Linked DNA regions of Homo sapiens. The protein of the gene in region 4 interacts with the protein of the main gene of each other region in a biochemical or structural test. Each region holds a gene or a part of one and is shown on either strand. Other genes may lie near its edges.

Region 1 (7,258 bases), on a different chromosome or scaffold from region 4:
AGGCTAGGCTCTTCCCAGGACATTACAACTCCTTTCCAGGCTAGTGCCAGACAACAGAGATCCTGGGAGTTGGCTGAGACTGTCATCAGGCCTGCATCTCAGTTTAGTTTTCCCTGTGCCCACTCCTGTTTCTTTCCAGTACCTCCCAGAGTGTTGATCCCAGGGCCACTCCCCAATAAACATACTGCACACTAACCTGTCACAGAGTCCACATCCAAAGAACCCAACCTGTGACAGCACCAAATCAAAAGAGACTCAGGAGGCTGAGGCAGGACTGCTTGAACTCGGGAGGCGGAGATTGCAGTGAGCCAAGATTGTGCCATTGCACGCCAGCCTGGGCGACGAGAGAGAAACTCTGTCTCAAAAAAAAAAAAAAAAAAAGAGAGAAAACATATCAGGTAGGGGTATTTTACAAAGGAGAGAGGATATACAATAAAGTGTTCATACATACATGGGAAGCAAAACAGCACTGACTCTGGGGCCAGACTACCTGGGTTTGAATCCTGCCTTTTAGCTCTGTGCCTCAGTTTTTTCATCTGGAAAATGGGGATAATAAGAGCACTTATAGGGCTGTAATGAGGAAGAAATGAGACAATGTGGATAAAGCAGTTCCATAGTGTTTACTATATGTCAACCACTGTTCTAAGTGGTCATTTAATAAACAGCTGTGAGGCCAAACCCACAGGTCCCGAGGGGCAGTTGGGCTGGGACTCTCCCCAGACTCTGGGCATGGGCACAGGTACAGTGTAGGCCAGGGCATGCTGAAGCATGCATGTTCACAGAAATAGGCCTGAGCAGGGCTAGCATGGGTGACGTCACAGGCGTGTGCTTGTGTGGGTGCTGGGCTGCTCCTCCCAGACAGCGCAGCTGCACGTATTGCCATTCACACCCACGCACCCATATATATGCTGAGCTGGGGGAAGCCCACACAGACCACACCCTCTGCATGCCCTGTTTTTCCTGCACCTCCTTTGGTGGAAGGAGGCACCTGAGGCCTGGGATGCTGGCCCAGAAGTCCCAGGAGGAAATGGGTCCTGTTCCCTGATTACAGGCCTGGCAACGGGCTGAAAACTCAAGCTCTTGTTGGCAGGGATTTCTTGAGCCCCTAGAGGTCCAGACCCAGAGGCAAAAGTAAAAGCAAGGAAGCCTTACCCTGCATGTTAGGAAGCTCCCAAAAAAATGGAGAAACGGATGTAAAAAGTGCATCAGAGCCCACAGGCTGCCGGAGTCAGCACAGTAAGCTCAATGAGGGCTGCAGCACTTAAGAGGGTGCCTCCTGTACAAAACAGGATCAGACAGCCAGAGAGGGGCCCCATTCAGCCCCCGTCTGCCTTCCTGGTCTCATCACTCCCTGTCCCCTCCTCAGTCAGGAAACTCTAGCTTTGTAACCCTAAATTCAACAACCTCTTCCTGGCCTCAGGGCCTTTGTACATGCTGTTACCTCTACTTGGAATGTACTTTTCTCCAACCCACCTTTAATAATTCACCTCGCCATCGACTCACTTCCTTTAGACCTCTGCTGAGGTCTGAAGAGATCTCGACCCAATGTTTTTCCTTCTAGCCCTCATCATAATTGTCTTTATGTAACAGAGTGTTTATTTAATGTCTGAACTCCCAGAGAGCTGGCGCTGTGTCTCTCTTGTGCTCCTCATGTTGTCAATGCCCAACACAGAGAAGAGCAGGGTCCACAGAACTTCAAGCCTAAGCCAGTTCAAGCCACACTCTGTGAGCACTCACGTTCTGCTGGATTCCCTGTGCCCAAGGCCAGCGGTGAGCATGCCTCCCCTCACCCATGCTGATTAACCAGATAGCCTCCATGCCCACTGACTACTGACCACCAGGACTTACCTAAGCCAGTGGATCTCCTGTGAGGCAGAAAACTCATGGAGTCAGGCCGACTTGGGTTCTAGTTCCCACCTAGTCATGTTATGTGGCTTTGGGGCAAATTGTAGAACTTCTCTGAATCTCTGTTTCCTCATCAGTAAATTGTGGACCATCATTCCTGATTAGAAGATAATTATGAGGATCAGGTGTGACCACAGGTGCACACCTTCAGCACAGGGTCTACGCTAGCTCCGTCCCGCCCACGTAAAGACCTGCCACTAGGTGGCAGTCCATCTCAGCTACCCCACCGCTCCTTACTCCACAGAGGCTGGCTAGGACAAAGGGTCTCAATGTCATGCTGAATTCTGAGCTTCTTAGGGGACGCACTTGAGGAAATCAACGTTAACACACAAGTTTCCACTACAGCAAGACAAAGTCAGAAGCAGCAGCCCCAGGTCACTATCCAGCTGAGTGGGTTGCCTGAGCACACGCTCTTACAAACTCTAGTCTAGTCCTACTATCTCACAATTCCCAGGAAGCCTGGCTCTTTCTCTGGCATCAGCTGGAAGCTCTGTTGGGCTTCTCACCTCTGAAATGCAGTAAGTTGTCCTGCTGTGCCTGGCAGCCGACCCACTGCCTGGCTCAACATGTCAGACAGGCTCCACCGCGACCGTGGGTGTCCTCAATTTTGGCGGTGCTGACAAGGGTAGATAGATTGCAGGGGTGAGTTTCAAGAATGGCTTCAGAAAGACAAAGAGTATGAATTATATTCCATAACCAGAAAAAGGCCTTGTGGCTGGAGAATGGAGAGTGAAGGATCACTTGTGAGAGATGAAACTGGTGAGATGGGCAGGTCATATAGAACCTGCTAGGCCAAGCAGGGAGTGTGGATTTTAGGTGCAATGGGAATTCACGGAGGGTTTTAGCCTGGATGTAGGGGATCATGATTTAATTTCATTTTAAAGATTTAAAGCATGATAAATCCAGGCAAAACCAAACTGATAGATCCAGGCAAAACCAAACAAGGTGAGTAGTCTGGGTGACAGGAGATGGGGCCTTCAGCTTGTGGGCTGAGTGACAAGGTCTTGATGGATTGGAGGTGAGGCAAAGGGAGGAATCAAAGTTAGCTGCAAGGTTTTTGACCTTCCAACTTAGAGAAGTTTAGCGCCGCGTTCTGAGAAAGTGAAGACTGTGGAAGGAATCGTTTGGGGAGGGAAGGCGAGCTGTCTAAGGGGGGGGGATGTGGAACATGCAGTGGGATGCTGGGGCCTGGAACGTAGGGGAGATGCAGGTTTGGAGTCACCGGTGCCTGTGTTGTTGGGCAAAGCCAGGGGAAAGGTCAGGTCGCCTTGGGATCTGGCCTAGCACTGAGTGCAGAGGAAGAGAAGCTTCTGAGATCGAGAGGCAGCGGCTACAGGAGGAGGAAGAAAGCAAGGCGGGGAAAACCAAAGTTCAGGAGAGCATTTGCAGGAGGGCGCTGCGGGGTAGGGTCTGAGTCGGAGCCCCGAATCGGACTCGAGTCCTGTCGCGTGGGGACGGAGCGTGCAGAGGCCCATGCGAGGGACAGACACAAAGGCCCTGGGAGCTGCAGGTCAGACCACTGGACAGCGCGGCCGCGGACCTAACGCCCCTGTAAGGGGTGCTCACGCTTGGGGGGAACTCTCCGAAAGAGAGGACCACTGAAAGCCACCCTGGCAGCAGGGGCGGAACAGACAGACGTGGGTCTGGCCGTCGCCAGAACTGCCTGCGGACCAGCCCCGCGCTGCCGGGGGGGCGGGACATGTCGGCTGTCCATCAGTGCCCGCGACCAATCCGCAGGCAGCCCCGCCCCCGCCCCTCCCGGGAGAGGGCGCGCGGAGGACCCGCCGCCGCCGGTGTGAGGCGGCCCGTCCTGGCTCCCTTGTCCGGGAAGCCCGCCCAGGTAACTGAGTTTGGCCGGGCATTCCCGGAGGACGCGCCATCCCCTCACGTCCCGTCCCGGTCGCTGCATGGGCGGTGTTCGGGACGCGGGGGCTGCGTCTGTGCGGGACCGCGGGGTAGCGGCCGCCCGTGCGAGTACGCCTGACTGACGCGCCGGCCGCCGGGCCTGCGGCCTGTGGGCGGGGCTGCCGTGCGTGACAGGGCCGCTCGTGGCCGCCGGGCTGTGTCCGGGGCCGCGTGAGAAAGCTCTGCGGGACTGAGGGCTGGGTGGGTCGACCGGGAACGGCGCGCGCTCCCGCCGCCATCGCGCCTCCGTCCCCGCCTGCGGCCTGTCTGGGGGTCGCGGGGCGCAGGCGCGGCGGGCCGACGGGCGGGGGTCCTCCCCACGGGTGCGCGGGCGCCTTTGTTCCCGGCGCCGAAGCGGGGTGGGGCCTCAGGGCAGCCCCGCCCCGCCGCGCTGAGGCCCCGCCCCGTGTCCGCCTGCAGGAGCCGCCGCCGGGTCCCGCTCGTCTGCCGCCTCAGCCTCAGCCCCAACCTCAGCCGCCGCCGTTGCGCTTGCTCCCGGGCGGTCCTGGCCTGTGCCGCCGCCGCCCCCAGCGTCGGAGCCATGGCGGGCGCCGCGTCCCCTTGCGCCAACGGCTGCGGGCCCGGCGCGCCCTCGGACGCCGAGGTGCTGCACCTCTGCCGCAGCCTCGAGGTGGGCACCGTCATGACTTTGTTCTACTCCAAGAAGTCGCAGCGACCCGAGCGGAAGACCTTCCAGGTCAAGCTGGAGACGCGCCAGATCACGTGGAGCCGGGGCGCCGACAAGATCGAGGGGGCCAGTAAGTGCGCCCACTTCCTGCCTGGGCCCGCCCCGCGCGGGGGTCGTGGGAGCCCGGCCCGACTGCTTGCACCCCGGCCGGCCGCCCCAGCGACTTGGGCAAACTTTCGGGCCCTCCCAGACTCCCTCCGGGCCCCGCCCCCGCTTCGTCTCGGGTGGTCACTGGGGGCGGGGGGCATCCGGGTCCTCGGTCACCTGACAGGACACCCCCCCTCCCCCAGCTGGGGGGAGTGTTCCAGGCGCTTTGCCCTGAGGCCTAAAAATCCTCGCGGGCTGGAGACCTGCGGTGCAGGCATCGGGCCCCCCAGACCCTGGGAGTGGTGGCGGCGTCGGCGAGGGGAGCTAAGGCAGTGGCCCCCACCCTGCACGGGAACCTGGGGCCTGACCAGACGGTCCCCGCCCACTCTTTATCCAGAAAGAGCAGTCTGTGAAACTCTCCGGGCCCCCAGGCTGGGCTCTTATTTGCAAAGGAATCTTTGGGTTCCCTAAGTAGAACTTAGGCAGATGTTGGGTAGGGCTGGTCTTGGAGCAGAGCTGGGCCTACTCATCTCCCTCTGGGGGAGAGGGAGGAAGGTGGTCTTGTTTGGTTTGGAGAAGCCTGAGAGAAGCCAGTGGCTGGAATTTTTTTTTTTTTTTTTCTGCTACTTTTGTCCCAAAGCTGGGTTTTGGAGGCCTATGTGGGTGGGCAGACACTCAATGCCAGGGCAGGGACTCCCCTTGCCCTGGGAAGCACGTTCCCAGGAGATGGGCCCCATAAAGGCCTGCCCCAGCGCCTTGGAGTCAGGTATTCTTCTCAGGAGTGCAGCTAGTTTGTGAGTCTAGCCCTTTGTCCTCTGTCCGGTGGCTTCAGGGAGCGGGAGCGGCTTCTCTTAGTTTCCTGCCTTTTCGCCTTCCCAGGCCTGAGCTTGGCTGCTTTTGCGCTGGTCTCTAGTGGGAGGAGGGAGTTGGGGGATTTTGAAAAACCCCAGATCTTTGAGAGTTGTTCCACTTAGCGCGTGCCTGTGCTGTGGTCGGATGGGCACTCTGCTCTGCCCTCCATTCCCCCGCCTCTCAGTGTGAAGAGATGGTGTGTCTGCAACTCTAGACTGGGTTGCTTCTTGCAGGGACCCCCGGAGACTAGGGTTAGAGAGACCCAGGCTCAGAACCAGGTCTGTGTGAAGGAGGGAGATCAGGAAGTGACACCCCAAGGGGGGGTCCCACAAACCTTCTTGGGTATGGTGTGCATGTGTGTAGATAGTTGAGGAGATTGGGAGGAAGGAAGGTCTTGTGGTGAGGCAGCCAACCATCCTCAGCTACAAACTCCAGATCTGACACAGATCTAATGCAGCTGCTCAACTTAGAAATGGCAGCCCCCTTCCTCAGTGCCCCCACTGACCCTGTCAGCCATTGGGAGAACATTTTAGTGACTTGAGAGCCTGTGGATTCCAAAGTAAAGGAAGAATCGACACTGCAAAGAGCTGAGATAACCCTGGGAACATCACTCAGGCATCAGGCTCCAGGCATGGTCCCCTTCCTTACTCCCTATGCTGTGTTGAGTTGGTGGCACTGGCTGGAAGTTCTCAGAGATCTCCTGGGTAACAGACTGCATTTTAAACCACGCATATTAGCAGGCAATAAATGTAGCACAGTGGTTGATGGCAAGTCTGGATTTGAAGCCCATATATTCATTGTGTGTTTCCCGGCCAGTTACTTACCTTCTCTGAGCCTTGATTTCCTCATGTGTAAAATGGGGGTAATAATATATCCAGTATATATGGTTGCTCCAGGATCAAATGAGACAATTCATATAAAACATCTAGCATTGTCTGACACATAAATGTTTAATAAATATGAGCTGTTATTAGCAATAACATTAACAATAGACCGTGGCTGCCCTTCAAGACCCTGAACTGGGAATGGTGAGGGGGTGAGGTGTGGCTATAGGTGAGGATGAAGGTGCAGGAAGGGAGGAGGACGGTGACCAAATTCACATTTCACTTAGATTGCTACTCAGAAAAAGGCAGGAAACAGTTTTGTTTTGCCCCAACCCATGTGCCCACTCACCCACCCACCATGTAGAACAGTGTTTCTGTAGAGAAAGTGTTTGCAGTTGTGCACATTTGACTCCTGGGTGTGACCTTTCTTGTTTGTAAGTTGGGGCCTGAACAGAAAAGAGGGGTGCAGAGAGGGGATGATTTATCATGCCTCATGTATTTGGGGGATGGAGGCAGGCATACAGAGGACCTGATAACCCCCTACCCAGGGGTGAGCAGGTGGGTCAGCCAGAGGTGTACAAATTCAGTGATCTCATCAGTTAGCTGGGATTTAACAGGCCTGGAGAGTAGGCAGAGGATGTAGGAGGACCCTGGCTTTTGGATTTTGGGGGCTCAGATTGAAAAGAGCCTGGATGAAAAGTCTGGTCGATGCTTGTGTGTTCAGACTTAACTAATGGAGGCTTCCACTGAAGCCGTGCCCTGCTTCTACCCATTCGTGGGCTCTCCTTGTTGGTGGGTTCTGATCCCTGCGGCCTCTGAGGAGGTTGGACTGCCAGCCGGGTTTTCTGCCACCTGGACTCTTGCCCAAGCACCTCAGGTATCTGGCCTTTCCTGCTGACCCTACCAGGGTACCAGCAGTGCCTGAAGCCTGGCCTAAGAGAGAGACACTGTGCTACCTTCAGGGTGTTGGTAGACCTGAGGGAGAGACAGTGTGGTT
Region 2 (7,018 bases), on a different chromosome or scaffold from region 4:
GGCCGCCAGGTCACGGTGCACAAAGTTCTTCTCCTCCAGGTACTTCATCCCCATGGACACCTGGTGCAGCAGCTCGGCCACATTGCTCACAGGGATCTCCTCCCTGGGGTGGCGGGGAAGGCGGGGTCAGCTGGGAGAAGACTAGCCAAGTTCCCAGGGGCAAAGCATGCTTCTCTGACCCAGCTGGGCATGAGCCAGGTGACCATGTGTTCAAAAACGCTTATTGAGCACCTGCTGTGTGCCAGGCGTGGGGCTGGGGACACAGCAGTGAACAAAACAGGCAAAACTCCTGCCTTCATCCAGTCTCAAGGCTTTAGGGATCACCCACACGCTACGACTCCCAAGTCTAGACCTATGCCTGCACCCTCGACGTGCTGAGGTCTCACAGGCATCTCAAAGATAATGTGGCCTGATTGTCCCCATCCCCATGTGCACACACATATGGCTCCTCCACTGTCCTCTCCAGCAGCTCCTCTTTCTCTCACACCCAATCCATCAGCAAACCCTGGCAGTTCTGGTGTCAGAATCTCTCCAGAATCCACCGCACTCCTCATCTCTGCCTCTGCCACCGGGAAGCAGCCGCAGCATCACTCACCTGGACCCCCAGGCAGGAATAGTCAGCTCCGCCCAGGCCCTCGCTCCCTCCTGTCTCCCACTGTCTTGTCCTCTCTGCCCCTGAGTCAGGTCCTCCCCCTCCTCTGCTCACAGCACCCCCTAGCTCCCACCCAACTCAGGGTAAAACTCCAAGTCCTCCTGGCAGCCCGCAAGGCCTGGCACGGTCTGCTCATCCCCTCCCTGCCCGCACCACACGAGGCACGGGACCACCTCAGGGCCTCTGCACAGGCGGTGCCCTTTGCCTGGAATGCCCTTCCCCACGTCTGGGCATGGCGGCCTCCCTCAGTTTGTTCAAACCTCCCTGCTCACTGCACCTCGCACCCCAACACTCCCAACCCCCTGGAGCTGCGGCAGGCTTGTGCCCACCACACTATCTTCCCACATGCTCTAGATTTCATCAGGATTGTTACTTACTGTCTCTCTTCTCCAACCAGAATACAGAGCATGGATCTCTGCCTTGTTTATTCGCTAATGAATCCCAAGTGCTACTAACAGTTCCTGTCACTGAGAAACTGTCCAATAAACACCTGTCAAATGACTGAATGTGGGAGCCAGGGGCACACTGGGAAGGTGTGTGCACCAGCCAGAGGGCACAGATCAGCAAAAACGTGCCTTGGGGAGTGCAGAACTTGTGTCTGTGAGGGTAAGAGTTTGGGGATGAGGAACCACAAATGAAACTGCAAAACTTTTCAGTAAAGGGCCGGATAGTAAGGATTTTAGCCTTTACAGGCCACAAGTGATCTCTGTCACATCTTCGTTTTTGTTTCTTTAAAAAAAAAAAAATTAAAAATAGAAAACCACGCAGCACGTAAACAAAGGGCAGGTTCCAGATAACTGGCAATGGGCACTTTCCCAGGGGCCATGAATTTGGCCCAGGGAGTCTGGGGAGCAGCTGATGTGTACAAAGCTCTTACTAGCAGTGCCCTTTATTTATTTTTATTTATTTATTTTTTTGAGATGGAGTTTCGCTCTGTCCCCAGGCTGGAGTGCAGTGGCACAATCTCGGCTCACTGCAAGCTCCGCCTCGTGGGTTCAAGCGATTCTCCTGCCTCAGCCTCCTGAGTAGCTGGGAGGCGCCCACCACCACGCCCAGCTAATCTTTTGTATTTTTAGTAAGGACGGGGTTTCACCATGTTGGCCAGGATGGTCTGGATCTCTTGACCTCATGATCCACCCGCCTTGGCCTCCCAAAGTGCTGGAATTACAGGCATGAGCCACCGCACCCGGCCCTAGCAGTGCCCTTTATAGGTGCCGACTCATTCGATCCTCGCAAAGGCCCTGGAGGTAGACACTGTTATTACCGCACTGGTGCAATGGTGGACTGAGGGTTAGCTCTGCTTTGCAGGCATGGGTATGGGTGTGGGTGTGCAGGCTGAGAGTGTGTCCACGATGGTGTGGAAGTGCCCCGGCTTCCCACACACGCATGCACGCGGGTGCATGTCCACCATGCCCAGGATGGGCCCCGGCCCCACCCACCCGATGGCCGGGCCCACCCGGTGCTCACCTCTTGCCGACCAGGAACTTGTGCAGCGGCCCGCCCCCAGCCATCTCCATGACCAGCATGAGGGCCTCGGCCTGGCAGACGCCAATGAGCCGCACGATGTAGGGGTTGTCCAGCTGGTGCATGATCTGCGCCTCGCGCATCATCTCTTCCGTGTCTGCCTTCTCCGTGCCCTGCTTCAGCACCTTGATGGCCACGTCGATCTGCTTCCTGCCCGACCCGGCCACGGGAGGCACGTGGGCGAGGGGCACCGGCCCTGCTCGGCCCCACACCCCCACCCACCCATCTCTCTTCTCCCTTGAGTTGTGTGGTAGACAACTGTAGTCGCCACCCAGGCTGGGACCAAGGCGCTCAATGTCCCTGCAGCCTGGAGCGTCTGCTGAGGACGGCTCACAGCCGGATCGCTCACCGGGAACAGCCCATCGCCAAAAAGAATCCAAAGTGACACCCTCCCCAGGGGCAGCCTGTCAGGGGCCAGTGGACTCAGGGATCGGGGACCCCACTGCAGCTCCCCTGGGTTGGGAACTTCAGCTCCACAGCCTCCCCCTGCCCAGGCCCCATCCCACCCCCGTCAGGTGTCCCGAGCTCTCTCAGGGAATCCTCCAGCGTGCAACGTCCTGCCCCAGAGTCTGTTTCCCAGGCAAACTGCTGTGAGACAGACATCCCGGCTCCCGTCCCACAGCCCGGTGAAGCCACTCCCCTCTGCCCCAGGCGGCGGTGCTCCCACCACGGCAGGGGCGGCCATACTTGCGCATGCGGTACACGCCCTGGCGCACTGAGCCAAAGTTGCCGCAGCCAAGTTCAATGTCAGCTATGAGGAGGTTATCGCGCTTCAGGAAGAGCTTCTTGTCCTTGAGCTCCTCTGGGTCGCTGTAGGGGCTCTCATACACGCTCGTGTCCATGGGCATCGGCCGCGGTTTGTCTGGGGACGTTATGCGTGCTGGGCACACACAGCGGTACACTCCCAGGTCAGGGGCAGGGGTGTGGGGAGCAAGGCAGCCTCAGCCCCCACAAGCACCTGCCCCAGACAAGGGTGCCGTCCCTGGAGCATGCACAAGCAGGTGGGTGCCCATGCGTGTTCCTGCACATCCACACGCACACACTGGCATACACTCCTGGCCACAGCTGTGGGTGCCCCATGAAGCCACATGAGGGTGGACTCTAGGGGCGTGTGCATTGGTATCCACGTGGCACCGTTACTGTGCCAGCTGGGGTGTGCATGTGTGTGCATTCGTACGTGTACGCCTATGGCCGGGCCCGTCCCTGTCTGCGTATGCAGCACACAGCCACATTTACGAGGCCTCCAAAAGCGAGCCTCTAGGTGCACATGTAACTATGTGTCTTCTCTGTGCATACACATGTTCAGGTCTGGGCCCACCCATGAGAAACAGGAGCACCCGCAGCAGACCATTTTAGGAATGTGAGCTCTGGGGCCCATCGTGGGTTCACATCCCGCCTCTACCACTGCCTCACATCCCCATAGACAGACCCCTCCCTCTCTCATCTGTAAAGTGAGGTTAATCACCATAGCCACTTCATAAGGCATGTCAGGAGGGTTCGGTGGCTCATACACACAGTGACCTCGGAACGTGACTGACACATAGTAGGTACTCAACAAACGTGTGTCTGGGGAGCCTCAGGCAAGGCCAAGTGTGCTCCCTGCACGTCAGTACACACTGGGACGTACATGTGCACAGGCAGGTGTGATGGGTGTGGGCACATGTGTGCACAGGTGTTAACCAAGCCAACTGCCACAGCCTGGCCCGGCCCACAGCGCCCCCCGTGAAACCCCACAGCCCTGACAGCGACCCTGATCTCGGCTCAGCATGAGCCCCAACCCGCGTCCCCACCTCTGCCCGCTCACCTGGCTCAGGGGTGTATCCATCTGAGTTGAGGGTGTCGATTCGTCTCTGAGGCTAAAGGCCACAGGGTCAGCAAGGCCTGAGCTGGGGACGTCCAGCCCCTCTCATGAGACCTATATCCACTGAGGACTCCCAGAGACAGTGGAGAGAGAGCTTCTTCCGCTCCACAGGCACCCCAGCCTCCATCCCAGCCTCCCCCACAGCCACTCCCCAGCTCCATCCCCAAGGCCACACTCCAGGTGCCCCCAACTCACATGAGTCAACGTGGATGGGTGGGCTGGGAGTGTGGGAGCAGCAGCCCCTGGGGGAGCAGAAGGGACAGTGAGGGCTGGGGGCCAGGTCTCCTGCCGCCCCCGCCCACCGCCCGCCCGCCTGCTGCCGTCACCTGAGGCGTTGCTGGCACTGCTGTTGGGGCAGGCCTCCTTCAGGCAGTAGATGAGCCCGTCCGCCTTCAGCTTCAGATACTCCACCAGCTGCAGGGAGCAGGCAGCTAGCAGAGAGGCTCCTCTCCTCCCCAGAGCCCGGCACCCCATCTGAGCACGGCATCTCCCAGAACAAGTTGCACGGGCAGCCTACCTGCCAGAGCGTGTCAAACTTGGTGCCCTCGGGAATGCAGTACTTGCCCGCCTTGTCTTGGCTGATGAGGTAGTGGTACACCGTCTTCCCATAGATGAGGGACAGGGCGTATGTGCCCTGCTCCTTCCGCGGCCTCAGCCTGGCAGGGGAAGGGAGGGGATGTAACCCCTAGAGCCACCTGGGGGCCTCCTGCTGTGCCCCGGTTCCCCCGCAACACACCCTATGGGCTCCACACCTCAGAGCCTTGCAGAGAAGCTGCAGGGACTGGGGAAGCCAGGCCAGGCCCCCATCACCTCCAGATCTGCTGATGATGGGCCAAGTGGCAGAGGGCGGTGGAGGGGCCATGGCTGTGTTCCCAGGAAAATGCACTGTTCTCCAAGAGCCAACAGATGGCCATTCACGGGGAATACCTGACCCCCCACGGTGGACACCCAGCCACGGAGGAGGGGACACCCATCCACTGGGGAACACCTGGTCCCCCATGGCTGAACAGTTGGCCATCCACGGCCAGACACTTGCCATCCACAGAGAGATAGTCATCCACAGGCACTCATTGGGGGTACACTCGGCCATACAGTCAGCCAACCATGGGGGGCACTTGGCCTTCTACAACAGACCCAGAGCCTTCAACAGGTAGACCTAGCACCATTCTCCTGGGGAGAGAAAGCCTTTTCCACACAGACCCACACAGGTAGGCGCAGCTCCATGACAAGCTTACAGGGCACCCCTGTGCAAATCAAAACAAGTCACTTTCTCATCACGAGACTGACCAGTTCCATAATAGATGGACCTTTCCTAGAATGAGACCCTCGATTGCCTTCTGCTGGAATTTTGTCAATATAAATATATAAATCTTCCATGTCTATGATGGGAATTGAGCCCCTCAAAGGTGGTGCATTTGTGGGGTAAGAAACTGTCCCCCCATCCGCTCCAGCCCTGAGTACACACATCCCCCCTCAACACAGACCAACTTAGTGTCAGACACCGGCACCCTCGCATGAAGCCCCACAGTGACACCAGTCAGCATCCCCCACACAACAGTTTTGTCTGGGGTCACTGGCACAAGCCTCTATTGCAGGGTCAAGTGTAGCTTTACAGTGAGGAGGGAGGGCAGCTGGCCCCGTGGAAGCTGTGGAGGCCGGAAGCAGCCGACTCCTGATCTCAGGGATTGCACTGCACTACAGAAGAGCCCTTGTGATGGCCTGCGAGCTGCACCCTCCAAGGTGCAAATTCTCAGACCAGGCCTGGCCCTGCCTGTGGATGTTCATTCACTGGACAAGTCTTTACTGACAGGCCAGGCACTGTTCTCAGCGCAGGGATATGGCAGTGAGCAAGGCAGCCATGGGCCCACCTTGCAATAAGGCCCTTCCTTAGGAAATGTCCCCTGAGTGAGGGAGAGAGGTGCAGCTGTGACCATCCTCTCCATTCCTGGACAGCACGTTCCCCGAAGTACAGTGCAGTGAAGGGTGGGGCAGTTCCCAGGCTAGCCCACAACAGTCTGGAGATAACATGGAGAGATGGGAAATCAGGGCGGGGGCAATGAGGGCACACAAAAGGGCAAGGAAGAGAACCCACCACAAATTAGGAAACAAACATCCCACAGAGACAGTAGGCTGGGACAGCAGATGCAGCGCCGTCACGTGAAACCCCGCAGTGACACCAGTCAACATCTCCCACAAAACATTTCTATTTTGAGTCACTGGCACAAGCTCCTGTTAAGTGCAGCTTTCCAGTGAGGAGGGAGGGCTATTGGCCCTGGGGGTCTCAGAGCTGTGGAAGTCAGAGGCAGGTGGCAGGCTGGCCTGGAGGTGATGGTCTCCAGGGACTGTGAGAAGTGAAAACACCTCCTAAGGGTCACAACCTGAAGTTTTAAACTGACAACAGAGACTCCATGCCAAGCCACTCACCAGCAAACAGCAAACCTCCCATCTCCCCTCCTCTGTCTCTTTTTTTTTTTTTTTTTTTTTGAGACCGAGTCTCGCTCCACAGCCCGGGCTGGAGTGCAGTGGCGTGATCTCGGCTCACTGCAAGCTCTGCCTCCTGGGTCCATGCCATTCTCCTGCCTCAGCCTCCCAAGTAGCTGGGACTGCAGGTGCACACCACCACGCCCAGCTAATTTTTTGTATTTTTAGTAGAGATGGGGTTTCACTGTGTTAGATAGGATGGTCTCAATCTTCTGACCTCGTGATCCACCTGCCTCGGCCTCCCAAAGTGCTGGGATTACAGGCGTGAGCCACCAAGTCTGTCTGTCTCTTTCATTCTTTCTTCTAGAACTAATAATTTCCTCCTTATTTGTTTATTTAAACTTCCATGTGGAATACTGGGGGAAAACAGCCACAATATTAGGGAGCTCTTCCCATCAATAGGTGGGGCCTCCTCCTCTGTCTTCTGAATCAGGGCTTGACCATGTGCCTTGCTAACAGGACATTAGCAAACATGACACAAGCAGAGGCTTGAAAAATGG
Region 3 (7,018 bases), on a different chromosome or scaffold from region 4:
AGGAAGAAGCATTCACTAGAATAGCTGAAATCCTAGGGACAGGTTATTTGAAAAGATATTGAGACTGTGAAAGCAATGTGTGCTTTGGGGAAGTCAAGAAAATCCTCCTTTTTCGAGTCCCTAGTTGCTTTTAAGCCTGAGAAGTTACTGCCAAAGGAGAAAAGAAGTTACCACCAAATGCACACAGAAGTTCAGAAAGGAAAACAAAGGCTAGCCAAGACCTTGTGAATCACTCTAACCAGGAAACGGACAGAGGTATTAACTCACTAGGATGGGCATTCAGAGAAGCAATATAAAATTGCATTAAATGGGATTAAATGAGTTGATATTTGTAAAGCGCTTAGAACAGTGCCTGGTATATGCTGCCCTCAGGGTCCTACATAATTGTTTGTTAAATGAAACTAACAATACGGTATTTCTGATTTGTAAGGTTGTTGTAACATTAGGGAAAAAGGCCTTACTTCTTCCCCCACGTCCAGCCCGGCGGCAGGCCTGGTTCCCATGGTGTTGCAAGAATGTTGCTGTTTGGGTCTCTATCACCAGGCTGTAAATGACAGTTCAAAATCATGCAAAGTCAACAGTGGAGCTTATCTGGAGGGTAGATTGTCCAGTGGTGTGGCAACATGTGATAAGAAGGGGTGGCATTGTATCAGTAAAATGGAATATTTCAGCTTGATTACACAGAGAAAAAACGAGCGCCCTGGAAATGGACTAAATGGCTACCAGGCAAAAAGTGTTAGTCTGTGAACCAGAGACCTGCACTCCTAAAACTGGGAGGATCTGAGAATGCAGAGGCCACTTTGGAAAATGTGAAGGTCTAAAGCATCAATTATCTTTTAGCTGCCCCCACCCCACCAGCTATTTCTTGGAGCCAGATGAGCAGGGTCTGGGAACAACTGCCCGAGGGTAGGGTAGGGCCAGACGATCAGAGAGGAGGATGCATCTGCAGCATCTCTGTTCTTTCTCCCAGGGTCACCGGGGCAACAGCCTGGACCGGAGGTCCCAGGGAGGCCCACACCTCAGTGGGGCTGTGGGAGAAGAAATCCGACCTTCGATGAACCGGAAGCTGTCGGATCACCCCCCGACCCTTCCCCTGCAGCAGCACCAGCACCAGCCACAGCCTCCGCAATATGCCCCAGCGCCCCAGCAGCTGCAGCAGCCCCCACAGCAGCGATATCTGCAGCACCACCATTTCCACCAGGTATCTGGAAAGAAGGCAGTGGGCACAGTACGGTGGAAAGGAGAACCTGCCTCCCCTCCAGGCCTGGCCCAGCCTCTTGAGTTCTCAGAGAGTTCATGATGAAGACCCTGGACCCCCCCAAATGGCAGAAATAGGGAAACTGTTCTTGGCAAAGACATCTCTATGAATTAAATGGCTCCCACCTGAACACACACACACACACACACACTGTCTCACACACACACACACACTTAAACTCACACACACACACACTTCCCCTGAGGACCCAGTAAACAATTGCTTCATTTTCCTATCAGCACAATTCCAAATCTATTCATGCCCCTTAGCCCATCTGGCTGTCAGATCCACAAGAGAAAAAGGCTTAATACCCACAACAGAGCCTTGTTTATTACTTATTTATCTCCCTCCACCCTTGTTCCCGATGGGATTTCAGGCGGCTTACTGAGATGGACAATACGGCCAGATAACATCATTCCTGAATTCCTTAGCAGGGCACACAAAGTCCTTTGTGAGCTGCCAGAATCTATTTCCCCAGCCTCGTCCCTGCTGCCTCCCTGCCAACTCCCCGTGCAAACACACATTCCAGCAACCCCCCACGCTGCCTTAGTTACCCGAATGGTCCATTGCGTTTCCTCTCATGCCTTTGTGGCGTTTTATATGCTGATCTCTCTGCCTGATGAGCCCCTCCCTGGGCAGTCCTACCCCTCTAAGCTGGAGTTCAAGCATGACCTCCTCTGTGAAGCCTTCCTTGATTTCCCGGGCAGATACAGACATTTCTTCTCTCTGCTCACTTACCACTTAAATGTGCATGGTTCCCCCTCTAAATGGAAGCTCCATGAAGCCAGAGACCTTCTCTTTCCAGCTATATTTCCCTTGTGTCTGCTACTGGAAACATGGTAGGTGCCTGATAAATATTTCTTGACTGAATAAATAAAACCTGCCTTTGCCTTCTTTGCCTTCAGAATCTAAGGTGCCTTTAGACCTTAGGTCCTCCTCAACGTGGAGGGTTTATTGTCATTATCAGTAAGTATTCCTGGAATATACCGGCTCTGTGGATGGCATCTGAGCAAGGCACTGGGGGAACCGGTGGGAGATGTCCTGGCAGTGGGGTGACCAGTCTTCTGTTGTATGTTTCTAGGAACGCCGAGGAGGCAGCCTTGACATAAATGATGGGCATTGTGGCACCGGCTTGGGCAGTGAAATGAATGCGGCCCTCATGCATCGGAGACACACAGACCCAGTGCAGCTCCAGGCGGCAGGGGTATGGGAACTGTCCTTCTCTGGGATCCCTGGGGAAAGGCCTTGGGACAGAGGTCAATGGAGGAGATGAGGCAGGAGAGACTCAAACCACACAGATCTGGCTGGGCACGGTGGCTCACACCTGTAATCCCAACACTTTGGGAGGCCAAGGCAGGTGGATCACCTGAGGTCAGGAGTTCGAGACCAGCCTGGCCAACATGGTGAAACCTCACGTCTACTAAAAATACAAAAATTAGCCAGGCATGGTGGCAGATGCCAGTAATCCCAGCTACTTGGGAGGCTGAGGCAGGAGAATTGCTTGAACCCAGGAGGCAGAGGTTGCAGTGAGCCGAGATTGCGCCATTTTACTCCATCCTGGGCAACAAGAGCGAAACTCCGTCTCAAAAAACAAAACAAAACAAAACAAAAATGCACACACAGATCAACGAGAGGTGATGGAATGTTTGGGGAGGCCTGGGGCTGAGCCAGCACCGTCCAGTCTGTTGATCTCAGTCTGGTGCCAGGCCTTCCCTGTTCTCATAGTTCTCAGTTCTAGTTCTTTATCATCTTTATCATAGTCCTTTACCATTGCCTTTATCATTGCATCTTTTTTTTGTTTTTTGAGACAGGGTCTCACTCTGTCTCCCAGGCTCAAGTGCAGTGGCACAATCATGGCTCACTGCAGATTCAAACTCCTAGGCTCAAGCGATCCTCCTGCCTCTGCTTCCCAAGTAGCTAGGTATATTATTTGTAGCGATAAGCTCTTGCTATATTGCCCAGGCTGGTCTGGAACTCCTGGGCTCAAGCAATCCTCCTACCTCAGCCTCCCACAGTGCTGGGATTACAGGCATGAGCCACCGTGCCTGGCCTGTGATCCATCTTGACTTGTGACTTGATTGCCCTAACACCAAGGGCTGTTGTTTGGGGCATGTTGCCCTTCTGTTTGTCACTCAAGATAAAAATACCACCTATTGATGTGGAGAGAGTGGTTCTCAGGGAGTCTATTGGGGCTTTGGACAATAACATCTGTTGGTAAAAGTCCTGGGTCTCCAGAGTGACGCTGGTGCGTTCTGGGAACTTCTTGCTCAGGCCTGTGCATAGGTATCTGATTTAAATTGCAGCAGGGTAGCCGGGCATGGTGGCTCACACCTGTAGTTCCAGCTACTTGGGAGGCCAAGGCAGGAGGACTTCTTGAGGCCAAGGGTTCAAAACCAGCCTGAGCAACATAGCAAGACCCCATCTCTACAAAAAAAGTTTTTTTAAGCTGCAGAGGGGTCAGCCTTCAGGGAATGTTGCTCTCAAAGACTTGGATGTGGTGGGAGGAGCCAGCAGACCCTCCCCTGCCTGCCCAGCCCACAGCTCAGCAGAGCCTCTTCTGTGCTTCCCCCAACAGCGAGTGCGGTGGGCCCGGGCGCTGTATGACTTTGAGGCCCTGGAGGATGACGAGCTGGGGTTCCACAGCGGGGAGGTGGTGGAGGTCCTGGATAGCTCCAACCCATCCTGGTGGACCGGCCGCCTGCACAACAAGCTGGGCCTCTTCCCTGCCAACTACGTGGCACCCATGACCCGATAAACTCTTCAGGGGACAGAAGCTTTTTGTCTGGAGCTGCCCACAAGAAAGAGGGCAAGGAAAAAAGGCTGGACTCCATGACTATATATACATACATCTATCTACATCTGCCTGTGTACACACACAACTTTTTATACTAGTAATTTATTGGCAATTGGGCTGGTAATTAGTTGATGCAAAAGGGAACTCAGGTGGAGAATAATATTGACACTTGCTTTTCTGCCCCCCTCAGGGGTGTGTGGAAGGCAGTGGGGGAGTTGGGAGGGGGGCAGGGAAATGAAATGGAGTTTTGTCCTGGCCTTCAGCTGTCACTGCTTCCTCCTTGTCTTGGGAATTTTCACGGAGAACAGCTAAGCAGAGACCACACCTCGGCACTGGACACAGAACAACAGGGTGGGGTTGAACTTGGTGGGGCACGTTCTAGCTGACCTGCAAGCCCCGCTCACCTGGAGGGCTTGCAGAGCAGCTCTCCTCCTGTTCTCCAAGGGGTGGGCACTGTTGCATTAGGAATTAAGGTGCAGCCCAGTGCTGCGGGCAGCCAAGCGAGTCTGAGCGGGGATGTGAAGGCAGGACGGGGTTGGAGAGACCCTGCCTGTGCAAGGCTGGCCTCCTAGTCAACACCTAGCTGAGACATTCATCTCTGTTCAAATTAATATTCCTTGGGTCTTTCAAATGAATGTTTCAATGTGAGGAGCGAAGTACTGGGAAATCGAGGGATTTTCCACAATCCCCAAGCAGCTTACTCAGTGGAACCTCTGTTTCCCCAGCTATGAAGGAAATAGCATCCTACATTCCGTAAAGTGCTTGAAGAAGCTCTAGCTGAGAATGCTGAATTTTACAGTCATTGTTTTATGGTTACAAGGGTATGTCTTCAGGGCTCTGTTCATTTTCCCTCTTGATTTTCTCTTTTGAAGATGCCTTGCCCAGTGGCATGGAAAGAAGCCCACTTGATGATAGGAGCCTGACTATGAATTGATTGACTAAACATGACCCCAGGTGGAAGCTGGCTTTGACACCAGCTTCCTGTTCAGTCTGACCACTGCTGTCCTCCTGCTGCCCAAGAGTTGCACCTGGAGCAAGGAACCCCACCATGGCTGTCGCTCTCCATCCCATCACGCTAGAATCATGTGTCCAAGGGCTCACTCTGGAGGTGCACAGCACAGGTCAGCCTGGCCAGGGGCGAAGGAGACAGTAGAGAGGAAGCTCAGGGCCTTAGGGGAGGCCGGGTGCAAACCCGTTCTGCACCAAGTGCACTCGGAGTTTGTGGGTATGGGTGTGTACCCCTGCAGGTGTGCACATGTGTGCTTGCACGCACATATTTGTGCACTCCTGTGTGTATACATGTGTGCTTGTGTATGCATATGTGTGCATTCCTGCATGTGTGGACATGTGCGTGCATGCATCTGTGTGTCTGTGTGTGTGCTGAGACAGGAAAGGGGGTGAAAGTGTTGGTGAGGGAGCCTGGAAGTTTTCTCTTCCCCAACCTCTCTTGCTCTAAGGAGGGATGGGGTTGGGGGCAGCCGTTATTGAAGGTGATCGGAGAAGAAAGATTTTCTGACTCAGAAGTGACTGCCAGTGTAGCACAAGCAGTGTCCCTTGTGACTGTGATTCTACAGTTCTCTGATCCTCATGTTTCCTTTAGAGGAAAGAGGAAAAAAGGAACTCTGTGGTGGGTATTGGGAGGGAAAAGAAAATAGCCTGGTGGAGGCAGGAGGGAGTCGAGTGTGAGTAAGGAGCACCTGCAGCTTTTGGAAGTGAAAGCAGAGAGAGGGAAAGGTAGCTAAGACATCCAGGAGGATCAAGGGGCAGCGTGAGAGGCACAGGGGGAGGAAAGGGAGAGGGTGAGTGGGGCCAGGGAAGAGAACGGTGTGGAGTTGGTGGGCAGATGGTGCAGGAGGAGGGCTGGGCAGTGGGGAGAGGAAGAATCAGAGCAGAGAAACCGCTGCTGCGGAAGGCAGGGAGCAAAGAAGCATAAGGAAAAGAACAGGAGAAAGAACAAAGGCAGAGAAGACCTCCTCAGCTATTTTGGTGCTAGGTAATGTGAAATGCTGCAGTAAATAAAAGCCATAAGTAATGTTTGATTTTACAGTATTTACAAACCATATGCTTTAAACAGCCCACAAACTCCATCCAGTTGTCTGATGATGTGGGAGGACCAGCTCTAGTTAGACGGAGGTATGTGATTCGATTCTGGTGGAGACTTTGTGCCTTGAAAGGCTTCTCAGGAAAGCAGTAATAAAACAAAGTGTCCTTGTTTGGCCAGGCCGTGTCTGGTGTCTGCGTTGCATACCCCTCAGGTAGAGAGTGAGAACGAGACCAGGGGGTGACAGGGGTCATCGGCCTGCAGGAGCTGACCCCGTAGGCAGGCGGTATGAGCAGAGCTTTCAGAACCCCTGGAGCTCGGTGTTCTGTTGTAGCAAAAGCTACTGAAGAGTATTTTGTACTGAGATGCCAAAGCATCTTTCCCTTGCTCATCAGCCTCCATTCAGAAGGAAGCGGGAAAGTCACCCAAACCACCTACAAGGAATGAGGGCTCTTAGCGGCCAGGTAAAGAGGACAAGAACCAAACTGTCCACATTATGGAGGGGAGGGGGAAAGAGAGCTCAACCCCCCTCAGCCTCTGGTGCTGCCAGGGGGAGCCCCTCCGCATGTGTCCCCACGGGCCCTAGTTTCTACCTGACAGCATTTCAGCACCAGAGGAGGGTTGAGCCAGCTCCTCTCACCAGCCACAGAACCAGCAGCCAACAAACACATTGTCCCCGAGTTTGGCTGCAACACTCTATGTGACTTGGGAACTTGAAGCTTCCAGAGAAAAGCCAGGTCCTGTTGGACCAGTTGTTGGGTTTTCCTAACCACTTGCTGTGCCTCACCGCATTTCAAATATCTGGCACCTGCCACTGCCCACCCACTTTTAGATGGCCCTAGGGTGATCTAACCATGGTGCTTCTCAAAATTTAAAGTGCCTACGAATTGCCTGGGGACCGTGTTGAAATGCAGCTTCCAACTTG
Region 4 (7,991 bases):
GTGCAGTGGCATGATCTCGTCTCACTGCAACTTCCGCCTGCGGGGTTCAGATGATCCGCCCATTTCAGCCTCCTGAGCAGCTGGGACTACAGGCATGTGCCACCACGCTTGGCTAATTTTTTTTTTTTTTTTAAAGATGAGGTTTCGCCATGTTGCTCAGGCTGGTCTTGAACTCCTGGGCTCAAGCAATCCTCCCGCCTCGGCCTCCCAAAGTGCTAGGATTACAGGAGTGAGCCACCATGCCCAGCCAGCTATTTTATCAGGACAGTCTGCCTCCTTAACTGTTATATCCACAGCATTAGCCCAGCAGAGGCACATAGTAAATGCTGAATGAATGAATGAATGAATGAATGAAAGAAAAGAAGTACTTGGATACAGTCTGGAGCTCAGGAGAGAGCAAACTGGGAATCTGGATGGCAAACAAAGCCAGGGTATAGAAGTGATAGCCCAGGACAAGTATATACAGAGAGAGCAAAGCAACAGAAAACTAAAGAATCCCGGACATTGAGGAAAGCCCAGAGGATGTGACCAGGCAGGATGAGACCATGAGGAAGGGAGAAAACCAGCTCAAAGGAAACAGGGCAGTGCAGGAAGCAGAAGAAAACTGACACACACAGACACACAAGACAGCCTCTAATTAACATCCTTAGAGATGTTTCATCCATGAAACAAGAACAGGAGGCTATAAAAAAAGAACAGCCAGAGAACGAGAAAGAGCTTCTGGATAGGAGAAATAAAATTGCAGTGGAAGGGTTGAAGAATACAGACAAGGAAATCTCCCAGATGATAAAGGAAAGGACACAGAGATAGGAAAGAAGAGAGAGAAAGCTGAGAAAATCAGAAGAACAGGGCCGGGCATGGTGGCTCACGCCTATAATCCCAAGCACTTTGGGAGCCCGAGGTGGGAGGATCACTTGAGCCCAGGAGTTTAAGGCCAGCCTGGGCAACATAGTGAGACCATCTCTACAAAAAAAATTTTTTAAATAAGCTAGGTGTGGTGGCATGCGCCTGTGGTCTCAGCTACTTGGGAGGCTGAGGCCGAGTAGCCTACTTGGGAGGATCACTGGAGCCCAGGAGTTCAAGGCTGCAGCGAGCTACAATGGCACCACTGCACTCCAGCCTATCCCTAAAAAAATTTAAAAATAAAAACAAATGCCTGACTCACTGGAGAAGGCACTGTCTCGGATGCCAGGGGTGCTGAGTGCAGGAGCTGATGGGGCAGCAGTGCTAGTGGCCGGGGTGCTGTCAGGAAGCACCACCCTGAAAGGAAGTGAAAAGGGCCGGTGAGCAAGGGGGGACGCACAGCCTCAGCCCTCACCTCCCACCTCCCACCTGGCCACTCACAGGTAGCCTGGGTTGTGATAGTCGTCCTCATCCTCATCCGCATCCTCACAGGCTGGTTCTGGGGGTAACGACACAGGGGTCAGCCTAGTCCAGGACGGACCCCAGACTCCCCACCCAGCCTGGGCACCTCGGATCCCAGACGCACCCTCGTTCTCGTAGCTCGCCACACTGTTGGCTTCAAAGAGAGGGTGAGAGGGAGACTAAGTCAGCTCAGGCCAGGCCTATCTTCTTCCCAGCCCCCGCCGCCTGAACCCTTCCCCACACTTACCACCATCAGAATCCCGCCGGGAAGATGGCGTCCGGTGGGAGCCCCCAAGGGGCTGCGGGGATCTTCTGGGAGTCAAAGGTCAGGGGTCATGCCTGAGGTGGGGCTCAGGGGGCAACAGCAGTTGCAAAAGGGAAAGGGGCCCCCAATCCAAAAAAGTGAAGGGGTAGAGAGTGGAGTTTGGAGGGGGAGGGGCTGAGCTTTGGAGGGGCAGGGGCTGAGCAGCTACTCACGGGATGGGGAGCAGGTCTGGCTGGCTCAGGGGTGGGTAGGAGGTGACAGGTGGGTAGGCAGGTGGCCAGGGGGCAACCGTGTCTGAGGACACAGAACCAAGTTGAAAGAAGGACTCCGGACATCGTCAAGGCCTCAAAGAACAGACTAAGCCCCTGAAAGCCCCACACCCTGGACAGGCCTGGGGGAGCCATCTCCCCTCTCCCAGCTCAGGTCAAGGCCATGTGGGCAGCCCCAAGGTGGCAGGGGAAGTCTGAAGGTTCACGCTCACTCCCACACCAGGGGACCCTCTCCCTGGCACCCAAGGTAGGGGACCCTCCTTGTACTCACGAGGCCGTTTGAACTGGATGCCCCTTGGATACAAACTGGTAAAGGAGACACAGCTTGGGGATGGGGCTGGAAGATGGAGGATGGAAGCCCCAGCCCTGCCCCGCCATGGGGTGTGGAGGGAGACCCAGGGCGGCTGGGGCGGACTCACCTATCTGAGGATGTGCTGTCGTAGGAGCCTGGGAAAGAGAGGGCTGGTGAGGCAGGAACAGGGGGTGCTTAGGGCAGAAGGTGCTGGGATCCAGGGACTCTCAGAGGCGCTGGGATCAGGACGGAGGCAGGGACAGAGCCAGGACAGACACAGGGGCTGGGAGTGGATGAGGATCCCGTCGGTGTCCCTGGGCCCTGGGTACCCCCACCAGTTTCCCACTCACCTGGCAGTCTGTGGCAGTGCACACACAGTGCCATCAACATGGCCAGGATGGGCAGCAGCAGGAGCCCCAGCACGCAGGGGACCAGGATGGCCTCCTCCATCTGCAGGGGAGCTCGGAGCAGGCTGGCTGCACCCCTAGGCCCCTCAAGGGCAGAGTCAAGGCCAGATGAAGATGGGGTGAGGACCGGACCCGGCAGGGAGCAGGGGGCAGGTAGGCACCAGGTGGCAGGGGAGCCCGGGAGGAGGCAGCTGTGCCCTCCCCGGGGCTCCCGGGATGGGTCCCCTCTTTTACTGGGCTGAGTGTGCGTCCAGCTGACTGTGGAAAGTCCCTGCTCCCAGGGTGGTCAGACCAGGGCCTGGGCTGAAGTCGGGGGATCCAGTTACCCCTGCGTCCCAGCCCTACCTGCCCCTCCTCGGCGCCCGCCTCTCCGTGCCCGCCCTCCCGCCCGCCTGCGGCAGGAAGCTGTGGTGAGCGCCGGGCGAGGGCAGGAAATCATCAAGCTCTCAGCCGGCTGCACCCGCCCCCTTCCCACCCCACCCGCCAGTGGGGAGGGGGCAGGAGGAGGCCCGGGAGCCACCCCAGGCACTCACCAAGGGTCTGCTGGCCCCCCCCAAGACGGGGACAGCCACCTGCCAGCTGGCAGCCGTGGCCTCCATATCCAGGACCCGGGGAGGCAGCGAGCAGGGAGGCCCTGACAGTGGGAATTCTGGGGTACAAAGGGCAGTGCCCACCCCCACCTCAGCCAGGCCTGTGAGGCAAGGGACAGGCTCCAGGGAAGCAGGGGCGTGACTCACGGTCACACTCAGCCAGCTCACTCGGAGAAGAGCAGTCCCCCATCTCAGTCGCCCAGCCCAGAAGGGCAGAGACTCACCCAGAGCCCTGAGGAATGACCCACAGTCTTCAGGAGCCCTGGGGTGAAGACGGGGTGCAAGATCAGAGGCCACCCAGAGAAAGACGAGAGCAGGCACCTGGGGTCTGGCTACAAATTTTATTCCGTTACAAATAGCACCGAGCCCTTGGGGCTGCCCCTGTGGAGAGGGATCCCCCTCCTGGACCCCCACCTCCTCCCCTGAGCTACCCAGGTAGTGTCTGGGAGCTGGCACACGGCCCAGGGTCCCTCTGGAAGCTGGGCCAGGCCAAGGGGTTAGGCCCAGGCCCTTCGTGGGGTGGGCCCAGGGCCAGCTGTGGCAGATGTGCAGGTAGGTGAGCGGCAGCCTCTCAGATGAGCACACTGGCCACGGGCACGCGGGTGGAGCGGCCCCGCTGGGGCACCACAATCCGGTCGTCTGTGGACCCTGCTTCGTGCAGCAGGCCTGAGGGGGGAGGGTCAGAGCCAGGGTGAGCTGGATGGACAGACAGACAAAGCCAGAGAAGGGCAAACAGGCAGCGGGAAATGGATGGGGCAGCCACAGAGCCACCCCAGGGGTGGATGCAGACAGACTGGAGGCCAAACAAGGGGAGGGCTGTGGACTGAGCTGCCAGGTGCACAGGAGTGGGCAGACAGATGGACAGACAGACAGGCAGATCAAGAAGCTGGGCCGGGCACAGCTCCTAACTGACCCTGCACGTGCAGCTGTGCCCGCCGGCGGTCGGCCTCAATGAAGATGGCGGTGCCCAGGAAGGCTGCGCCGCCCAGTGCCCCAACAAACGCGCAGAGCATGAGCGAGAACTGCAGAGCCCGGAACTCGGACAAGAAGGAGGGGGGCCAGTTCCGGCGCAGGCGGTCAGAGATCTGCAGGGAGAGGAGACAGGAAAGCCAGGGGAGTCAGCCTCATGGATGAACCAGGGAGGGCACGCCCCTGAGCTCCAGGGAGAAAGACAAGTGGAGCCCAGGAAAGGGAAGGAGGTTTGAGCTAGATGCAGTGGCTCATGCCTATCATCCCAGCTACTCAGGAGGCTGAGGTGGGAGGATCGCTTGAGCCCAGGAGGTCGAGGCTGCAGTGAGCCATGATCGTGCCACTACACTGCAGCCTGGGCAACAGAGTGAGGTCTTGTCTCAGGAAGAAAAGAAAAGAGAAAAGAAAGGAGGAGTTTGGACCACCAGGGTGAGGTCCCTGGCCTTACTGGTAGAAATATTCAAAGACAAAATCTTTCTCCTCCAGTTGACAATGGAAGGTGAGAAGTGCCCAGCACGCAGGACACAGACACTTCACTAGGGCCAGGCCTTCTGATCCAGCCCAGGCTCAGGACACCAGCCACCCCATGCCAGCCAAGAAATAATGCTCACCAGGCCAATGAGGTAGGGGCTCCCAGCATCACCCAGCAGGTGGGACAGCACGATCTGGAAGGCCTCGGCGGTGGAGCGTCGGGTAGGGATCACCACGTACTGTGGAGGAGTTGGTGGAGCTCAGTGGATGCTCTGGGCTCCAGGGGGCAGGAGGCAGGGGGCCAGGAGACCACCAAGGATCCGCCTAGGCCGGGGTCAGAGGTGTGCCTGGGGTTGAGGTCGCAGGGCAGGCCGGGGGTCTGCTACAGATGTTATTTATTGCAGAAGGTAGGTTGAGGCTGGGCTTTGAGGGGTAGAGGCAACACTCCTGACCCCAACTCTGCTCTCATCAGCCTCTGCGCTGACCCTGGAGCTGCCCAGCAACTCACCAGCAGAATGTCGGCCACGATGGCCCAGTTCATGGACAGGAGGGTCTCTCCAATGAAGATGAAAATCTGGGGGAAGAGAGGGTCGGGGGTTCATGACAGTAAGGGCTAACACATGGAAAGTTGACCATGTTCCCAGCTCATCTATTAACTAATTTAATCCTCATCACACCCCAGTGAGACAGGTGCTACTAATATCCCCATTTTACACATGATGAAACTGAGCACAGAGAGGTTAAGTCACTTGTCCAATGTCACACAGCTGGGAAGAGCCAGAGCTGTGATTCAAAACCAGGCATTCCACCTCGAGTGGCCATTACGCTGACTGCTCCTCCACCCTGGACCCACGCCATCCCCCTTGACACCTGCTGGCTACTCACATAAGTGGCCACGATGCTACCACGGGCGCAGGCAAGGGACAGGAAGAGGAAGGGTGCAGAGCCCAGGAGGCCAGTGGCACAGACCAGGGGATCAGCCCGGGGGTTGGAGTGGCGGAGCCGGCGGCTGATCTCCACACCCAGGCCCACACCCAGGACTCCGGTCAGGCAGGTGATGAGTCCAAAGATGAGACTAGGGGTGAGGGAAGGGAATGGGGGGTTTGTCCCTGTGCCTGCCAAGGCCCCTACGCTGTCCATCCTAGCCACCCTCACAACCAAGGTCCCTACAGACACAGCACCCCATGGTTGGCACAGCCCTGAGTGGCAGACATCATCCCATCACTTATTTCCCAGACCAGGAAACGGAGATTCCAGGAGAGCAGGCAGCTTGTGAAGTCAGGAGTCAAACTCCCTGCCTGGGTCTGAGCCACAGATGCTCTTCACTCCAGCCCTGCCACCCGCAGGCCCCCCAGCATAGCCCCATCTGGGCACCTGTCAGAGGAAGAGCAGGAGTCTCCGGGAAGGCAGGGTGGGGTCTCCCCAAGGACCACGCGGGAACGCAGCAGGAATGCCGGAGCCCACAGAGCCAGGGAGCCCGTGACAAAGGCCACAGCAGTGAAGCCCAGGGAAGACAGGACGAAACTAGGACTGCAGATAGTTGGGAGGGAGAGAGTAAGACCCCACGGAGGTGTCGAGGCAGGAGGGGACCTCTCTTCTCCCTTCCTGGCTTATTTTAGTAAGGTCACAACACCGTGCAGAGGTGGTTCTGGCTCCCAGGATCTGGGCCTGTAATTCAAGCAGCTGCCACAAGGGGACAGTATCGACCGAATTACTGGCCTTGGGGTGTGGCCAGGAACAGGAACATCCCCACTTAAACCTCAAACCAGACGCCAGGGGGCCTCAGATGGTGGTCTAGGGTGGGAATAAACTCACTTTCTTGCCAGAGCCCTCAGATCTGCCCACCACGAGGTGGGGTTCAGGGGTGGCAAATCTGAGTGGCGCTCCACGGCTCCCCTTGGCGGCTCCCGCACTACCAGGAACAGCAGCAGAACGGCCACCACTCCTAGACCCGGTGTCACCTGGGAGACAGAGGGCTTCAGGATAGGCACAGGGAGAGACACACTCAAGCCCTGGGCTGGAGGAGAGTGTGGGGTACAGATAACTCCAGCCTGAGACCTAAAATACCCAGTTAAGTGCCTGCTCCAAGAAGCCGAACCTGCAATCTGGGGGAAGGGGGCTGCCACTAGGGGCCACCCTATTTTTGCAAGCCTAGCTTTGTCTCCTCTTTGGTAATTTTCTTTTGGGAAACCAGTACCCCTACTTCTCTCAATCCACTTGGTTTAAATAGGATCCCAGGCTTGGCCAACAAGAGGACTGTTAACCACCCCAGCCTCGGTGACGGATTCCGCAGAGGGCACGTGATGCATGTTCATCTAGTCAGACGCTATCCTGGAAACACGGCCCCAGGGTCCAAGGTGCCAATGTTGCTAAATGGAAAGGTAATCATCTGGAGTTCTCACGTCCTTAAGAATGATGTTAACACAAAGGAAAGTAAAGCTCAGAAGAGAAGGGCAGTGTGGGAGCCCTGGATCCAGCTTTACCTGACTGAAGCTCACCTGGGACTTTCAGGAAGAAAGCCAAGACAGCCCCTTTAGGGGGCTTACGGTTTGTTTGTTTGTTTGTTTGTTTGTTTTCGAGACAGAGTCTCACTCTGTCACCCAGGCTGGAGTGCAGTGGTGCGATCTCGGCTCACTGCAACCTCCGCCTACTGGGTTCACGCCATTCTCCTGCCTCGGCCTCCTGAGTAGCTGGGACTACAGGCACCTGCCACCACGCCCAGCTAATTTTTTTTTGTATTTTTAGTAGAGACGGGATTTCACTGTGTTAGCCAGGGTGGTCTCAATCTCCTGACCTTGTGATCCACCCACCTTGGCCTCCCAAAGTGCTGGAATTACAGGTGTGAGCCACCGCACCCGGCCTCTAGGGGGCTTACAGTTTTACAATGGGCTTCTGTCACCTGCACGCAAGAATTCTGTCTAGCACATGGCTTCCAGGTGAGGGCAGCCAGTCTCCTGCAGGCTCAGCAGAATGAGAGCTGCCCCAAAAAAGGGGTATTTGGAGCCAGGCGCATGGCTCACACCCGTAAGCCCAGCACTTTAGGAGGCCAAGGCAAGAGGATTGCTTGAGGCCAGGAGTTCAAAACCAACCTGGGCAACATACAAAGACCCCATCTCTACAAAAAAAAAAAATTTTGTGTGTGCAATGGCACGATCTCTGCTCACTGCAACCTCTGCCTCCCGGGTTCAAGCGATTCTCCTGCCTCAGCCTCCCGAGTAGCTGAGATTACAGGCATGCGTCACCATGCCTGGCTAATTATGTATTTTTAGTAGAGACAGGGTTTCACCATGTTGGTCAAGCTGGCCTAGAACTCCTGACCTCAGGTGATCCGCCCACCTCAGCCTCCCAAAGTGCTGGGATTAT

The links.
Region 1: the proteins of LAT (region 4) and PLCG1 form a complex in vitro, tested with the Homo sapiens proteins (2 studies listed by BioGRID and IntAct, with this or other methods).
Region 2: of the proteins of LAT (region 4) and ZAP70, one has a biochemical effect on the other in vitro, tested with the Homo sapiens proteins (2 studies listed by BioGRID).
Region 3: the proteins of LAT (region 4) and GRAP2 form a complex in vitro, tested with the Homo sapiens proteins (one study listed by BioGRID).

Annotation. Positions count from the first base shown.
Region 1 is NC_000020.11:41,133,291-41,140,548, forward strand, and holds the start of PLCG1 (1-phosphatidylinositol 4,5-bisphosphate phosphodiesterase gamma-1), read left to right. Parts: upstream 1-4,252; 5' UTR 4,253-4,351; coding exon 4,352-4,568; exon of another isoform or gene 4,569-4,710; intron 4,711-7,258. Other genes in the region: translation initiation factor IF-2-like, read right to left, coding at 3,468-4,049. UniProt on the Homo sapiens protein: Mediates the production of the second messenger molecules diacylglycerol (DAG) and inositol 1,4,5-trisphosphate (IP3). Plays an important role in the regulation of intracellular signaling cascades.
Region 2 is NC_000002.12:97,730,558-97,737,575, reverse strand, and holds part of ZAP70 (tyrosine-protein kinase ZAP-70), read right to left. Parts: intron 4,694-7,018; coding exon 4,555-4,693; intron 4,452-4,554; coding exon 4,364-4,451; intron 4,280-4,363; coding exon 4,233-4,279; exon of another isoform or gene 4,033-4,232; coding exon 3,981-4,032; exon of another isoform or gene 3,057-3,980; coding exon 2,864-3,056; intron 2,327-2,863; coding exon 2,120-2,326; intron 104-2,119; coding exon 1-103. UniProt on the Homo sapiens protein: Tyrosine kinase that plays an essential role in regulation of the adaptive immune response. Regulates motility, adhesion and cytokine expression of mature T-cells, as well as thymocyte development.
Region 3 is NC_000022.11:39,967,072-39,974,089, forward strand, and holds the end of GRAP2 (GRB2-related adapter protein 2), read left to right. Parts: intron 1-970; coding exon 971-1,201; intron 1,202-2,339; coding exon 2,340-2,462; intron 2,463-3,833; coding exon 3,834-4,013; 3' UTR 4,014-6,650; downstream 6,651-7,018. UniProt on the Homo sapiens protein: Interacts with SLP-76 to regulate NF-AT activation. Binds to tyrosine-phosphorylated shc.
Region 4 is NC_000016.10:28,980,068-28,988,058, reverse strand, and holds the start of LAT (linker for activation of T-cells family member 1), read right to left. Parts: upstream 3,008-7,991; 5' UTR 2,684-3,007; coding exon of another isoform or gene 2,642-2,683; coding exon 2,542-2,641; intron 2,347-2,541; coding exon 2,319-2,346; intron 2,206-2,318; coding exon 2,171-2,205; intron 1,925-2,170; coding exon 1,843-1,924; intron 1,678-1,842; coding exon 1,613-1,677; intron 1,520-1,612; coding exon 1,490-1,519; coding exon of another isoform or gene 1,403-1,489; coding exon 1,345-1,402; intron 1,261-1,344; coding exon 1,166-1,260; intron 1-1,165. Other genes in the region: SPNS1 (protein spinster homolog 1), read right to left, coding at 3,380-3,450, 3,620-3,854, 4,769-4,867, 5,137-5,202, 5,514-5,703, 6,003-6,158, 6,444-6,589. UniProt on the Homo sapiens protein: Required for TCR (T-cell antigen receptor)- and pre-TCR-mediated signaling, both in mature T-cells and during their development.